Regions from separate parts of the Homo sapiens genome. Here region 1 is linked to region 2. Evidence: fine-mapped expression QTL. A gene starts in region 2. The other region holds a variant in brackets. All regions are shown on one strand. Distances are from middle to middle.

Evidence for each region.
Region 1: its variant is fine-mapped to the expression of RNF182 in whole blood (TOPMed, PIP 0.93).

The regions. Positions count from the first base shown.
Region 1 is chr6:13,977,103-13,980,013 of GRCh38, reverse strand. RNF182 (ring finger protein 182) reads right to left here. Exons shown (of 3, transcript NM_152737.4): 3 at 1-2,911. The coding sequence starts at 2,894. The coding sequence ends at 2,151. Among named protein-coding and RNA genes, the nearest start is that of RNF182, 54 kb to the right of the region's middle. The variant C/A (reference allele first, on the strand shown) is at 1,391.
Region 2 is chr6:13,923,316-13,926,226 of GRCh38, reverse strand. RNF182 (ring finger protein 182) reads right to left here and starts at 1,275. Exons shown (of 3, transcript NM_152737.4): 1 at 1,204-1,275. RefSeq lists an enhancer at 1,880-2,380.

The DNA.
Region 1 (2,911 bases), 54 kb before region 2:
CTTCTAAATTTGGAAATAATAACAATTTAATAGACAAACAAAATAGTATCACAGTGAATAAAATATTAAAGCATTATCTTTTTATCATTCAATAGCATGAAGAGTTTTCTGGTGTCATACAAAGATTGCTCTCTAAAGCCAAATTAACTAGAAAAAAAGACTGCCACAATACACGGAGACACAAGTTTATCACTGTAGACATTATACAGAGAAGCAAAACACATCGTACCCATGTCCAGAGCTTTCTAGAAATCTCATTATATAACTCACCAATTTACTCAATGTTACATTTCAAACAAAACGAACATTTTTTTAAAAAAACCTTACAAATATATAAATCCAAACCACAAAACATCTTCTAAACATGGTATTTACTCTAAACACAAATGGATTTCTGGAAATTGCATCACAATGCTATCTAAACTAGATTTTATGAAATCATAAATGTATTTAGCTGTATCTTGGGGCTTAAATTCATTGGACCATATCCCATGTATACTATTCTCATCCTACTTACTTTGGGCATACATATTCCCGAAGTTTAGTTTTACAATTAAAATCAAACTGCTATTCCAGTTGGAATGGGCGCACTGTACCTGCATCACACAACAAAGATTTCATAACAAGTTAAAGTCGTCTTAGTAATGCCCCCTTTCTAAGAGTTACAAATATTTTAATGTTAATCATTAGTAATGGGTTTTAGAGACTAGAATGTTTTTTTAAATTTTTGCCTAGTTTCTGTGAACAGTCTATTTTGCCAACTTGTAATCTGCTAAACAAATTCTTCTTAGAAATATATACATTCAACTTTCCCTACATCATGAAAAGAAGTTCATTAACTCAAATCACCTAGATTATGCTTGTATTCAAAATAAATTGTGTAAGAACTTGAATCCATTCCAAAACCAACTCAAAAACAACAGGGATAGCAACATGTTAAGCTGCACTCTGCCCCTGCCATTTTACTTCCTTGAAGGGTCTTTTCAAGCAGGGCTTCAGCTTTGCATGTCTCTTGCCCACCCCTTTGTCTAGACTACAACACAAAGTCTTGCACATAAACCTAAACCATCATATTTTGGTACAGCTCAGTACCGTACAGCAAAATACTTAGGTTCTCAGCACTTCAAACTGTGAGCTGAAGCATCTCATTAACTGTTTCTGGTTTTCATTGCCACAGTTCACCTCGAATTGTTATAAGATTCAGTTAAGTAAATCCTAATAGAACCAAAAATATAATAGGGAAAAAAAGTATTGATGAATTTATAGCAACTAATTTAAATGGAACCTTTTCAGGACAAGGGGTGAGGCTGATTGGGCAATGTGGTTTAAAAAAACCAAAACTAAGATGTTATAAGGAAAGACTCAAATGAAGGTTTTCATCAATAATAAC[C/A]GCTGTATGAGAAGTTCCTTCTCCTCCATTCTTCTCAGATAAGACTGAGGAGAGAGGAAAACAGACATGGAGGAAAGAGTGTGTCTCAAGGACAAATGGCCACATTCTGCCATGAAGCTGACTGTGATGCAAATTCCTCAGTGCTTTTCATTCTCCTTAGTAATGTGGCAAAACTGGTATTCAGTTGAAACTACCCAAGGGAATGGAACCGAGTTTCCTCTTGGCAAGGGAGAATGGGCAGAGGAAACAAGTATCTCAATGGGATCGCCGACCACAGAGAGTGACTTAAGAGAGAAAACACCTGAAGACAATTCTAGGGTGTTCCAATACCAGGGGTATGGGGTGGGAAAGGAGTACACACTTTGTGTCTCAGAGCAACTTTCCTCTTGTGTCCAACTGCCATCATAGAACATCCATGAATACGAAAGGAGGGATCCATGCTCTCCCTATAGTATAACACACCACACCCCTGCCGTCTGTCTGGCAGTGCTGAGAGAAACCCTGTCCTTTCTCTGGGAAGACTCACTGCTGTCAGTGCTCCATGAAGTGTGAGCTTATACAATTTTGCTAACCCCTAAGTAGAAATGAACATTTTTACTTCCAGCCTACAGGAAAACCAATCAAGTCAACATGTGGCCAAGGGTTTTGTTAATGTCATGGATACTAATCATAAAGAACATAAAAGAAAATAAATTATAAATTATCTAACTTCACACTCAAACAGGGCAATGTGTGTCCAATTTCTTATTTTGCATATCAGTTAAGAAGGAGGTGCCATACAGTCTAGAAATTCATGACAAACACACTGGCAAAAACCATACACCATAAGAATAACGAGGCTCGAAGGGACCAGGCTGACAAAGACGACCCCAAGGGTGACTTTCTTAGACACCAGTAAGTAGATTCCTAAGGGTAAGGAGCTGAAGTAGAGCAAACCTAGCAACCACACTAACACCCGGATGGATGTCTGAAACAGCAGGGACGTGCAGTTCCACACAGTCCAGTTGTGTGACACAGTGGTGACAGAGTCGAAACTCGCAGGCCTATAAAATTCTACCACAGGAGTGGAGCTCAGGGACGGGGAGCTCTCTCTCTGCACCTCCATGATGGTTATGACCAGGCAGTTGGAGGACGTGTGAGAAGGACTGACCAGAGAGGCCAGCCTCTTGGGGGTGAGCAGCAGCTCAGTAGGGTTCTCTGGCAGGCACTTCTTCCCTTTGCCTCCACAAGTCAAGTTTACAAGGATGTTGTTGTCATCGGGCAGGCTACTAACTTCATCATCTGGCAGGCACGTCTCAAACCTGCAGAAAGGACAGACAATGACACCTTGTGGGGAGTCCCCAAAGTCTATGATCTTGTAGAGGCATTTGGCACAAACCCTATGACAACACTCCAGCACTTTGGGTTTCCTCTGTTTCAGATTGTATCGATTGTAACAGATTTTGCACTCCAGCTCATCAGAGGCCTGAGACTCCGCAGTGTCTTCAGGAGGTTGACTGGCCATCTTGAATTATGTGTGCA
Region 2 (2,911 bases):
TCTTGCATTCCATATAGTTCTTTAAATGACCTATTCCAACTTATACATTATTTTACTAAGTTGGATATACAATTTTATATGTTAGATTATTTTCCAGTTATCAATATGACATCTCATATTGTTTAAATATGATTTAAAACAAATCTTATTAACATATATACAATTTCCTTCTGAATTGATCAACTGTATTTCTGAAAATGTATCTGTTTTCTTTCATATTACTACATGTAAGATGATGTCTAAGTACCAAAAAAAAAAGTCTTCACAGTCACAATTTAAATCTGTGCTTCGCGTCTGCAACAAACTATCACGAAATGATTGCAAGGGTTGGGGCCACTGAGAAAGGTACCTATAACCTATCCAGTGCCCCAGTGGCAACCGCATCGTGGTCCTCATCATCCCACTCATAAACACCGATGCAAACACCGCCCAGCTACCTGCCTCCAGAGGTGCTTTGGATTGCCTCCCTACACATAAAAACAAAAGGCACTTTCCAGTTCCTTACAGCATGAACACAATACCTTCTAGAAACAAAAGCAATGACCTCGGTGCCAAGTATCTCCTTGACAAAGTATCGGTACTGCTCTACATTCTGGTCTTGCTAGTCGGGGAAAGCCGGGCTACCCTTACCATCCAGTTATAGGTGCAACTGCACCTTCCAAAGAAAAAAAGGTCTTTCGATTCAATATCCAAACGAACTTCAGAAGCCTCCTCAAAATGCTTCAGCCACAGGCATAAAAATGGGCTCACTTTTCAGAGATTCGTAAAAATCTTTCGCTTGTCCCTCTTACTACCCTCCCAACCCCTCCTCAAAGAGAATGCCATGAAACATGAAAGTCCAAAGGTAAATACTTTCATACCTTTTTTTCCCCCAAAAGCCTCGATGGCACGCCAAGAAGGAAAATAACAACAACAACAGAGGGGCAGCTCCCTGAGCAGGTGCAGCCCGCGCGGGCGCTCCGCAGCCGCCCTCCGCCGCACAGCCCCTCAAGTTGGTGCCAGGACGGCGGCCCCCGTGGTGCCCGGAGGGAGACTCCGCGCGCGGGCCCCGGCGCCGCTCGGCCCGAAGTTTGCCGCCCCCTCTCCTCGGCGCGCTTGGGCGGCCCGGCGCCGTCCAGGACTGCGGGGCTGGCTGCTGCCCCAGCGTTGGGGAGGCCCGGCGTCCCGCCGACCCCTCCCCGGCCGCGGGCGCGATCGCCTTACCTGGCCGGCGGCGGCCCAGGGCCCGGGAGCCGCTCCGGCTGCGGCGGCGCCTGGGAGGGGAGGGAGGTTCCCGTGGAGGAGGAGCTCGCGCGAGGAGCTAGCGGGCTGGCGGGCGGGCGGCTTTGTCTCTACGGCGCTGAGCCGCCGACCCTGCGTCACCATGGCAACCGCCGGGGCCCCCCCGGCCCTTCCCCTCAGCAGTCCGGGTATTCGGAGAGGACAAGGACCCCCGATGGGCCGCCACCACCACAAACACGCCCCTCTCTCAGTCTCCCTCACAAACCGCCTGTTTCTCCCCAGCGAGAGGGGAAGGCTAAAGCGGAGCGAGCCCAGGGCCAAGTGGTATTCGCATCCTAGTAGGCACTCCTTTGCTTCCCCACACTGGACATTCCAACTCCCGTCGCACCACCATCCCCCCCACAGACACCCTCCACCACTACCACCACCACACCTTTCTCCTGTGGAGCTGTACCCTCAAAATGGAAATTCACTTAAGGGAGGAGAAAGAGCAATGCAAAGTGATAAAGTGTTGAGCAACTGGTACTCGGTTCTCCTGTTGCAACTGCCGCAGCATGCACGGAGCTGCCAAGGGACGCCGTGCCGCCTCCTCCCTCTCCCCCTCCTCCTCCTCTCTCTTTTAGCAAGCTTTGCCTCTGCTGGATGTGGTCTCACTCCACCCAACCCGTGTATCTGTCTTGTTGAGGGCTCCCGTAGGAGAGAGGGGAAAGGGGGCTTTATCTCTGATGTAAACACTGGATACACTTGTAACCTCAGAAGCTGAAACACAACTTTCAGGCTGCAGTATGGATCTCAGCTGCTGCCACACTGCGCAGCTACTGGCTGTGACCGCTAAGCATCTACCATGAGCCCTGAGTGACTCTGTGCCAAGGACTGGTCACGTACTGCAGGCCATGGCACTCAGGAGCAGAGAAAAGAAAGCTAACTTTTTCCTCTCCTGAGGAAATTCTTAGAGAGGGAGAGAAAAGTACCAGCAGACCCTTGGTCATGCTTCCTCTAAAGGACGAACTAGAGGGCAGCCTCCATGGGGGGAGTGAGTCATCCCTCCATACTGTTTTCTTGAAAGATCCGTTGCTGAATCCAAAAGCTACAGTGTCTTTCTTCAAACCCTGGGGAACATGACATTTATTTTTTGGCATTTGTGAATCACCAAAGGAATGTCAATGATTTATAATAAAATCCACGGTAGCTGATGTTTTCTGGGTTTACTACTTGAGAAGCCACAAAGCAGAACAATGTTATTGCCATTTGAAGGTACACCTATATTAACTAATGAAAAGATAAGATCTATTTCATGGTGGAAAAGGAAAACAGTTTGTTCCTCGGAGAGACTGGCCACTTTCTTGTAATGGGAATATTCTGAATGAAGTCAATAATATTCCAGATGAAGTCAAAAGACAAGGTCTTTTTGGCAGGCCATTAAGCATTTGGCAATACCTGCCAGAATTCAAAATGCACATACATTTCTCCCAGCTATCTCAATTCTAGAGATCTGTCATACAGAAACACACAAATGTGTAATGATAGATATAAAAGGATATGCATTGCAGAAGTTTTGTAATAGTAAATGTTTGAAACAACTTATATGCCCATCAATAGTGATATGGTTAAATAATGTGGCACTTCATACCATGTAATACTATGCATCCATTAATAAGAATAAAATATATAAAATTCATAGATATTGATT